Linked DNA regions of Homo sapiens. The protein of the gene in region 2 interacts with the protein of the main gene of each other region in a pairwise test. Each region holds a gene or a part of one and is shown on either strand. Other genes may lie near its edges. The genes, in order: SENP2, ARMC12 and GAD2.

What was found.
Region 1: the proteins of ARMC12 (region 2) and SENP2 interact in binary tests that used the Homo sapiens proteins (3 or more experiments, as listed by UniProt).
Region 3: the proteins of ARMC12 (region 2) and GAD2 interact in binary tests that used the Homo sapiens proteins (3 or more experiments, as listed by UniProt).

What each region holds. Positions count from the first base shown.
Region 1 is NC_000003.12:185,610,254-185,613,906, reverse strand, and holds part of SENP2 (sentrin-specific protease 2), read right to left. Parts: intron 2,257-3,653; coding exon 2,162-2,256; intron 1,301-2,161; coding exon 1,249-1,300; intron 563-1,248; coding exon 499-562; intron 1-498. UniProt on the Homo sapiens protein: Protease that catalyzes two essential functions in the SUMO pathway.
Region 2 is NC_000006.12:35,740,009-35,743,661, reverse strand, and holds part of ARMC12 (armadillo repeat-containing protein 12), read right to left. Parts: intron 1-3,653. UniProt on the Homo sapiens protein: Essential for male fertility and sperm mitochondrial sheath formation. Required for proper mitochondrial elongation and coiling along the flagellum during the formation of the mitochondrial sheath.
Region 3 is NC_000010.11:26,219,769-26,223,421, reverse strand, and holds part of GAD2 (glutamate decarboxylase 2), read right to left. Parts: intron 1-3,653. UniProt on the Homo sapiens protein: Catalyzes the production of GABA.

The DNA.
Region 1 (3,653 bases), on a different chromosome or scaffold from region 2:
CAAAACTCCAACAACTCAGAAGGAAGAAAAAAGTTGTGTATTTTCAATGCTTCCTGCCTTTTTTTTTTTTTTTTTTTTTGAGACAGAGTCTCATTCTGTCACCTAGGCTGGAGTGCTATGGTGTGATCACAGCTCACTGCAGCCTTGACCTCCTGGGCTCAAGCAATCCTCCCACCTTAGCTTCCCAAGTAGCTGGGACTACAGACATGCCACCATGCCTGGCTAACTTTTAAATTTTTTTGTGGAGACAGTCTCACTATGTTGCCCAGGCTGGTCTCAAACTCCTGGGCTCAAGTGATCCTTCTGCCTTGGCCTCCTAAAGTTCTGGGATTACAGGCATGAGCCACTGTGACTGGCTGGCTTGCTGCTTTTTTAAAGAAAAACAACAGAATTAACAATCAAAGTTATATATATATACTTTTTCTTGCTTTTCATGGGCACCAAAACATAAGTTACATAAGTAAACAGGTATCAAATGTAACTAGGATTTTTACTTACACTTTCATTTTCAAATCTGATTCCGACCATCGTCTCTGTATCAGTAATTTTCCCCTTTGAACACCTAAGGAAAAAAATTGAGAGATGATAGACTTCTGCTAGATGATTCAAACCTAGTACATCCTAGTTTTAGAAATAAGATTTCGTAATTTGTACATAAAAATTGTGTTGAGTTTACATAATACTCTAAACCAGGAGTCAACGAACTTTTCTGAAAAGGAACAGACAGTATTTTAGGCTTTGCAGGTTTTATGGTCTTGGGCACATCGTGGCAACTCTGCCACTGTAATTTAAAAGCAGCCAGACAGTATGTAAATGAATTCGCATGTTCCAATAGAAATTTACTATACAAAAATAGGCAAGTAGACCAGATTTGGCCCATGGGCCATAGTTTACAAACTCTGCTATAAACCATCATCCCAAAATCCTAAAGCATGCAGAGCTGCCTTTACTGTTCCTATCCTAAAGACACTGACACTAGACATCCCCACTCCAACCAAACTCCCATCTAAGAAGCATGTGTTTCTCCCAACCCCTGACGCCTGGGAGATAAGGGGCACCCCCCTCAACCCACCAGGCTAGGGTGGGCATCTGACACAACAGCTAGCTACCTATCTACCCTATATGCTGACCAACTACCAGAACTCAAGAGAGTTCACAATTCCTCAGAACTGCTTACTCATAAATACAGCTTATAAAGTAAGAAAATATATATTAAAAGAAAGTGTAGAATGAACTGAATGTACGTACCTCTTTTCACTTCTCAATGAACATAGAGGTCCCCTTGTTTCAACAAGTCTATCTGTGAGGATGGTAAAGAAAAGATTAAATGTTTCCTTCATCGATGAATAATATAGTTAGAATTTCAGCTTACAGAGTTTCCACAACATCAAGACATTCCTCTACATTGAAATGCTACAGTGAATTCCAAAGACACTAGCCTCCCTATATACTAAGTTGCCTAAAAAAATGCATACATATCTTTGCTGTTTAAATATAATCTTTACTATAAACTGAGTGATATCTGCTTATCTGGTAAGCTGTCATTTAGTGGACAGTAAGTGGAGAAGTATAAGGAAATTGTTATATAAGGAATATAATAAAATTTCAGCTCACAAAATAGTTGCTACTATCTAGCAGCTTAGGAATAATAATCCAGAGCCATGTTATGAATCTACTTCACCCTGAAACAGCTTTTCTACTAAATTCCTAGATAAGCCCCAGTCAATGCTGTGAGGTTTTTTTTTTTTTTTTGAGACAGAGTCTCACTGTCACCCAGGCTGGAGTGCAGTGGCGTGATCTTGGCTCACTGCAACCTCCACCTCCCAGGTTCAGGCAATTCTACTTCCTCAGCCTCCTGAGTAGCTGGGATTACAGGCAAGTGCCACCATGCCTGGCTAATTTTTGTATTTTTAGTAGAGATGGGGTTTTACCATGTTCGCCAGGCTGGTCTTGAACTCCTGACCTCAGGTGATCCATCTGCCTTGGCCTCCCAAAGTGCTGGGATTGCAGGCGTAAGCCACCGCGCCCGGCCCAATGCTGTGAGATTTGACAGTATTTTGGTACACCATCTACACTTGAATGTCAATTTTCTACCTCATATGAACACTGTAGCATGAACTAAGGTCAATATATTAAGACAAGGCTAAATCTGGGAACTCACATTGTTTTGGAACAAACTGAGTTGTTTTGACTCCGTGATTTTGCTCTTCCCCCCAGCCTTTGGTCTTTAATGTGTCCATCTGACTTCTTTGAGAACTTAGAAACACAAAAAGTGAGGGAGATCAGATACAAAAGCAAAGTCTACCATTAATATGCATTATCTCTGTCCAGCAAGCTTCTCCAAATAGGGGTGATTGATTACACTATTATATCAAATTACAACAGAAAGGAAGCAACTATGTGGGACTAGGATAAAAGGAGTCTAATCATGATTCTAATAATATTTCAGCCAGGTCACCTAACCTCCAGTTTCTCTGTTTGTAAAATCAGAGGTTCTGAATCCCCAGTGATGCACTAACTGAAAAATCTCAGTGTGATAAAACTCAGATTAAAAGATAAAAAACTTTTTAAGCTATGTATTTAAATGGATCCTGAAACAATACATTAAAAGCAAGAACTTTTTGTTTTTTGAGACGGAGTCTCGCACTGTCGCCCAGGCTGGAGTGCAGTGGTGTGATCATGGCCTCACTGAAATCTCTACCTCTCAGGTTCAAGTGGTTCTCCTGCCTCAGCCTCCCAAGTAGCTGGGATTACTGGCACACGCCACTACACCTGGTTAATTTTTGTATTTTTAGTAGACATGGGGTTTCGCCATGTTGGTCAGGCTGGTCTCGAAGTCCTGACCTCCAGTGACCCACCTGCCTCGGCCTCCCAAAGCGCTGGGATTACAGGTGTGAGCCACCACACCCAGCCAGAAGCAGGAACTTTAATTATTTATTTATTTATTTTGAGACGGAGTCTCGATCTGTAGCTCAGGCTGGAGTGCAGTGGCACAATCTCTGCTCACTGCAAGCTCCGCCTCCCGGGTTCACGCCATTCTCCTGCCTCAGCCTCCCGAGTAGGTGGGACTACAGGTGCCAGCCACCATGCCCAGCTAATTTTTTGTATTTTTTAGTAGAGATGGGGTTTCACCGTGTTAGCCAGGATGATCTTGATCTCCTGACCTCGTGATCCGTCCACCTCGGCCTCCCAAAGTGCTGGGATTACAGGTGTGAGCCACTGTGCCCAGCCAAAGCAGCAACTTTAAAAAGCAAAAATAGTTTGAGGGTTTCGCCAACATGACAAAGTTAAGAGTTCGTTAAACATACTGCTGTTTCCAACATATGGCTGGTCAAAATGGAGAAAATACTGACATTCTGACTAAACCAAAAGAATTTTTTTTTAAAGTTCACAACTGATTATTCGCAAACAATCTGTTATTTCTGCATTCAAAAGCTAGATAGTAGGCCGGGTGCGGTGGCTCACGCCTGTAATCCCAGCACTCTGGGAGGCTGAGGCTGGTGGACTACCTGAGATCAGGTGTTCGAGACCGGCCTGGCCAACATGGTGAAGCCCCATCTCTACCAAAAATACAAAAAATTAGCTGGGCGTGGCGGTGGACGCCTGTAATCCCAGCTACTCAGGAGGCTGAGGCAGGATAATCGCTTGAACCC
Region 2 (3,653 bases):
TATAAATTCCACAAGCACAGGGATCTTCCCTGTTCTGTTTACTGCTTTCTCTCCTGTACTTAGAGCAGCGTGTTGGCACAAAGTGTTCAATATTACATTTATTGAGTGAATAAAGGGATCTTCGGTTCTAGGATGCAAGATGCGGGCAGGACGCAGTGGCTCACGCCTTTAATCCCAGCACTTTGGGAGGCCAAGGTGGGCAGATCACCTGAGCTTGGGAGTTCAGGATCAGCCTGACCAACATGGAGAAACCCCATCTCCACTACAAAAACAAAAAATCAGCGGAACGTGGTGGCACATGCCTGTAATCCCAGCTACTCGGGAGGCTGAGGCAGGAGAATCACTTGAACCCGGGAGGCGGAGGTTGCGGTGAGCTGAGATCGCGCCATTGCACTCCAGCCTTGGCAACAAGAGCGAAACTCCGTCTCAAAAAAAAAAAAAAAAAGTAAGATGCTTGGACCTAGAGGCATTACCAAAGACAGGTAACCTCACGAGCTGCACCTTTATGAGCCATGTAAGAAGTAAGCAAGAGTCCTGGAGTGGAAGTGAGCATTCCCATCAGTACCTGCCCTTCCCTTCCCCCACCCCTCAAAAGCCGTGGCGACCCGCAGGACAGGTTGGAGTCAGCAAGTCTGGGACAGGGTTTCAGAACGAGGGAACAGCAGCAAGGGGGCATGTGAGAGCATAAAGCATGCATTGTACGTGGCTGGGGTTAGGGCAAGGAGGTGCAGCCCATGGCCAATCACGCACTTTATGCTGAGAGCCTTGAGGCAGACCCAAAGGGCCTGATGGCCTAAGAGCCCTCTGGAGAGAGTGGGCTGATTCAGGGAATGGGGTGAGCTCCATTTTGGATATGTTGGGTTAGAGAACTTGGAGGGCATCTAAGTGGATATGCCTAGTAGCAGCTGCCCATGGGGAAGGCAGGGGAGCCCACAGGCTGCAGAGATCCAGAAGGGCACAGCTAGATGGAAATTGAGATCAAGGAGTAACTACTTTCACCTGAAAAGAGACCAGGGGTCAGGCCCTCAGCATAAAGACACTGGGGAAAAAAAGGAAGAGTGGGACTCAGGCCGCCTGCATCAGAATTTCCTGGGGGATTTGTGAAAAACAAAGTTCTCCTGTTGAACTGAACTCCCTGGGCTTTTTTTTTTTTTTTTTTTTTTTTGAGACAGAGTCTCGTTCTGTGGCCCAGGCTGGAGTGCAGTGGCGTGATCTTGGCTCACTGCAAGCCTCTGCCTCCCGGGTTCAAGTGATTCTCCTGCCTCAGCCTCCCGGATAGCTGGGATTACAGGTGCCCGCCACCACGTCCGGCTAATTTTTGTATTTTTAGTAGAGACGGGGTTTCTCCATGTTGGCTAGGCTGGTCTCGAACTGACCTCAGGTGATCTGCCCACCTCAGCCTCCCAAAGTGCTGGGATTACAGGCTTGAACCACTGCGCCCAGCCAAAATCTTTGCTTTTAACAAGCTCTCCAGGTGATTATAATATGCTTGAGAATCACAGCCTGACCAGGTGTGGTGACTGACACCTGCAATCCCAGCACTTTGGGAGGCTGAGGCAGGTGGATCACTTGAGCTCAGGAGTTCGAGACCAGCCTGAACAACATGGCAAAACCCCACCTCTAAAAAAATACAAAAATTAGCCGGGCATATTGGTGCATGCCTGTAATCCTAGCTACTAGGGAGGTTGAGGTGGGAGGATCACTTGAGTCCTGGAGGTGGAGGTTGCAGTAAGCCAAGATCGTACCACTGCACTTGAGAAGGCTGAGGGATGAGGCAGCAAGCAGAGATCTCTCTAGGTATTTTTTTCTGTTTGTTTCTCAATCTATTTTTATTCTTTTGTGTGTTTGCTTTTATTGATATATCATAGTTGTGCATATTTTGAGGATACATGTAAAGAGAATTTTTTCCCCAAAAAAGTTTGATGCCAAAAATTAAAATGTGGACCACGCATGGTGGCTCATGTCTGTAATCCCAGCAGTTTGGGAGGCCGAGGCAGGCAGATCACTTGAGGCCAGGAGTTTGAGACCAGCCTGGCCAACATGGTGAAACCCTGTCTTTACTAAAATACAAAAAAATTAGCCAGGCATGGTGGTGCGCGCACGCCTGTGATTCCAGCTACTCTGGAAGCTGAGGCACAAGAATTGCTTGAACCTGGGAGGCAGAGGTTGTAGTGAGCCGAGATCGTGCCACTGCACTCCAGCCTGGGCAACAGAGCAAGACTCTGTCTCAAAAAAAAAAAAAATTAAAATGTGAAATTATCAAACGTTAGGTTATGACACAATAGAACACTCGTGCAGGGCTGGTGGGGTGAAAATGGATACCTCCCTCCTGGAAAAGTTGGGCATACCCTTTGACCAAACCATTCCACTCCTGCATACACACCCTAGAATCCTCTCTCAGGCACACAAGGGAGACGAACACAGGAATGTTCACAGCACAATGTGAGTGTGACAAGCACCTGGAAACAATGCAAATGCCTAACAACGGGCAAGTGGCAGAGTATTCACGAAAGAGACCACCACAGAGCGGTGAAAGAGACCCAGGGGGGAGAATTGCTTGAGCCCAGGAGTTCAAGGCCAGCCTGAGAAACATAGTACTCCCGTACTCACTGAGCACACCCGTACTCCCAGCTACTAGGGGAGCTGAGGTGGGAGGACTGCTTGAGCCTGAGAAGTCAAGGCTGCAGTGAGCCAAGATCACGCCACTGCACTCCAGCCTGGGCGACAGAACGAGACCCTGTCTCAAAAAAAAAAAAAAAAAAAACCAGAAGGAAGCAGAGCTGCCCAATAAGGATGAATCTCTCCACGTAGCAGGGAGAAAAGGCCAACCACAGAATAGAAACCATCTACTTCCATGTACATGAAGCTTAAAAACATACCAGACTATATTTTACCTCTTTATTATCTGCTATGCCCTGCTAGAATATGCAAGGATACATACATATATGGTAAAACTACAAAGAAAATTTGGAACTGCTAAACAAAATGCAGGGTAATGACTGCCTCTGGTGGGGGAGGCAGCCAAGATGTGGGAGGGGGCTGTGCTCTATTTCTTGGCCTGGGCATGTTCTGTTTTATTGTTATTCCTTCTAACTTACACATATACAATATTTGCAAGTTTTACATATTTTATTTGTTTTTAATTTGGGAGAGATAGACTATTTGCCAGGAAGAGATGTGGAGGTCAAGGGAGAGGCTTTTTTGGTTTTGCTTTGTAAGATGGGAGGGGTTGGAGCCTACTGCATGCTGATGGGGGAGCGGAGCGTAAGCAATCAGAGAGGCCCTTAAGGAAGGGGTGGGAGGCAGGATTGAGACTATCACTGGCCACAGACCAGGAGAAAGCCATTTTTTTCATGGCAGCAGCAGGAAAGCAGGGAGGATGGGTGTGGATACTGTAAGTTTGGGGGTATGATAGCAGGGAAAGGGGGAAGTGACATGTGGTGTTTTACATTTTGTCTATGGAGTAATGGAGAAGTTATCCGTGGCCATGACACCAACCTCTGATTAACACAGGCCCAGGGGATAGAGTATAAAAAATACATCTGATCTTTGTCCCTAGTTCCAGGAACAGAGCTCCTGAAACCTTTGGAATTTCCTGAGTGACAGCAGTGTCCTTTGTTACTGCAAACCAACCCTTTTTGGTCACAACAGAG
Region 3 (3,653 bases), on a different chromosome or scaffold from region 2:
CATCCGCCAGGCATGCCAACATTCATAATAATATCAGTGACAAATGGCTGATGATTACAAAAGACAGGGCAAAAATGAGAAAATAGGACACTCTGCTGAATGATTTGCCCTGGATTCAAAAGGTGATGATTGTCTAAAGATGGCATGGACAAAGCTAATTCTTGTCAATTCTTCTTTGTTAATTATAAACAACAGCGCTCCTCCATAGTTGTGATTTAAAATAAGGCCACATACAGTCAACATCACTGTTTTATCAACAAGATACAGAAAGATATACTCAATCGACTGATTAGTCCATCGCAAGGCTTATCTAATTAACTTCTAGATTCCTCTAAAACTCTCTAAATGGATTGACATCCACACTCTCCTGAGGCTATTATTTAAAATGTGATTATAAATATGTCATTAGCATTCAGTTTTCTCCTCTTGCTCCACAAAAGCCTGTCATCGATAGGTCCGTGATTTGCACAGCAGCAAAAATTTTAGAAGATGGGCCATTGTGGAAATAGCATCTGATAAAAAGGTATCTTCCACATCCTGGACATCTGTCTGAAGCCTGGGATGTGATTGTCTCTCATCTCCAGCACAGGCAAAACAAGATAAAGGAAGGCAATGGGGAAGAGCAGGGACAAAAGTCAATGGCTAGCTTATCTCCTGCACTGGAGTGCTCTCTTATCAGCCTCAGGCATGTGGCCAGACAGACACTGGGTAAAGATATAAGCTGGGAGGGAGCCCATTTTAGCGGGATCAGGACTTGTGTATCTATTGTACATTCTCCAGCATTGTTTTATGTCCTTGTGGCCTCGTGTGGTACCCCTCTATCTCTGATGCTGACCCCCTCAGTTTACCCATCCACGAAGGGTGAGAAGGCTTTTTTGCTGCTGTGGCCACTGAGGTCTGGAGCAACCCTTCACTCCTCTCTGCCTCATTGACTCCCCATTTCATTATGCTCGCAGCTGAAATCACAGCCATTTCCTCCCTCCCGATGCTCCTTCATTTCTCTTTCCCTAACCCTTTTTTTTTCAAGTGAGGAAATTAATAAGGATTATAATTCATATTCATTTTCTGGATGAATGTGGTGTCTATGATTAGACAGTATTTAACTCTAGGGAAACTTGGGAATGAAAACCTGTGCATAAGATGGAGAGAGATTGTGAGGGGTGTGTTGTGCCTCTGGATATCAGAAGGCCAATTCACCCTGATGATAACTTTCCGTAAACAGTGAAAACAGGTTTGACGCTTTCATTGCTAGGTTTCCCTTCCTCCCTATATATATTTTGACCTTGCTCTGCCATTTCACCTGAATCTCTCCTGCCTCAAAAATTTCATTCCCTGATGATGATGTGAAAATAGGGAGGGAGATAGTTTGACAGGTCAGATCAACAGGCTCTCTCGATTTCTGGCAGAAATATTCCCCTAGTGACATTTGCTCCCATCCTGTGGCCCCTACAGGCTGCTTCCTAGGGCTGCCCAGCAAATCAAGGCAGGGCTCTCTCCAAGGAATTGTGAGACCTGCCCCCATAGGTCAGGTGTCCCTGCAGCCCTTGGCCTCCTGCTGCTGTCGCCACCCTGCCAGGCCCTGTGATGGGAGCAGAGCGCACTGCGTCAGCCATTGGGTGGCCACACAGCCTATGCAGCCAGGAAGGTGGCGAGCTTGAGATGTGAGAACTGGCTGCTCAGACTCAGGGATGCTCCCTGCAGACTAGCAAATGAGCCCGGAAGGATGCGCAGACTCTGCGAACAACCAGCCTCAGGCAACTCTGACCCTGTGCTCATGATCAGTTGGGAAGAGGCCAAAAGTCGGTCCAAACTGCTCTTTATGTCCTGGCAACACTCACACTAGGGCTGCCTCATCTACTGACGCTTAATTCCCTTTGTCTGATGGTTTGGTAAAAGATTCAGGACCACATTTAAGTCCTACTCTTCCCCAGCCAGCACCACCACCACTAGCACCAAATCTAATGATCTCTGCAAATGCAAATTATTCTGGAATTCTATCATTCTCTGCTCAGTTTTCCGTGTTCCAACATTTCTTTTTACAGAGGTAATTTTAACAATCCATGAAGACTTCATTTTCCCACTGCCCTTCACTCCTCTCTAAGCTTGGAGCCCAAGTGGAAATCAGGTTAAGGTCTCTCAGTAGAAACAAGATGATAATATGCATTTTATAAAATAATCTCTTGAGGAGTATTAAAATGTCTGGTAGTAGCAAGGATGGTAACTAATTTGACATACCCTAAATAGCATTAGATGACAAGTATGACAGTTATAGCACAGAAATCTATAAAGTTGCCAGCTGAATAGAGAAAATGACTGCTGTTAATTTTTTGAAATGCTATTTGAAGGAAAAGGCCAGCAGACTAAATATGTTATGAAAACTATTGAGAGATTGAATTGATATGCCTTGCTTAGAAATCCAACTTAATCCATCACATTTTTATCTGAACTTTAAATAAAATGCATTACAGTGACACCTAACAGTTTCATAAGCATTATGGCAAAATGTAAGTATTGAATTAGCCCATCTTTTCCTGGCACTAAATGCAACGTTGATAGACAGAACTATTACTTTCATTGACTTGCAGTTCCCATTATCTTAACTCTGTAGACTGCATTTCAGGCACCACTAGCTTTCAAGGATGAAGACACAAAACATTTCCATAGGTTCTTTTTGGTTTGGTAGCAATACAAACAATAGGTGGCAATTTACTATTAACGTATCTAAATATAAGGTATGGGGAATGGGTCAAAAAATGAATTAAAAGCATCACCCAGGATTGCACTATGAATGCAGGAAAAGCTGAGGAGGGGTAGGAAAATTTTTAATGCCTGGTATAAACATCACGTGGGTTCTTCATGAACGTTAATTGAGGATGATGTCTAATACACCTTCAAAACTCCTATTCCATAGCCTGACTTTGATAGAAATCTATGTCCCAAGGCTTTTTGTATGCCTACCTTTCTTCTCTGTTGGTACAAATAATGTGAACAAAAAGAAAAAAAGAACTAAACTTCTCACAGCAAACATTTTAAGAATGTTTGTTATTGATTAGCGTAATACTGCTAATTCATCAGCAAAATGTTTGCAATCTAAAAAGATGACGTTTCTATGGTGATGAATGTTCATGTCATATTTCACATTTTTTATTTGCTAGCAAATCTTTTAAAGGCTACACATCAACTTCGATCCACAAAGTCCTCCCCACCCCTGGAAATTCATTCATACTTATTTTTATTGCCGTAATGAAGTGTCAGCCATCGTGTATCAGGATGATTAGAGACAACGTAAAAAGCGAGGGTAATCAAGACCTGGGCAGATGAATGGCTGACTTTGTGTAGATAACATGAAAGCTCGGAATGCACCCAAATAAATGTTATAAATGAAGCTGTAATATGGATGGAATATAAAGACTCCTGTGAAAAGCCAAGAGACCACAAAAGTACATTTAAAAAAATTTCCCCCTAAGGATATCTGATTTGCCCCTCCCCCCCTTTTTCTTTATCTCACATATACAGTGGCTGGGAGGAACACACATCCTTATATAACATGGCTGAATTGCTAAGCTAGTCTGTATCATGCCTGCTTGTGTGTTGTGCACATTTCCTTAAAAATAAGTGAAAATCTGAATTCAAATCTGAAAGGTTGGCCATTT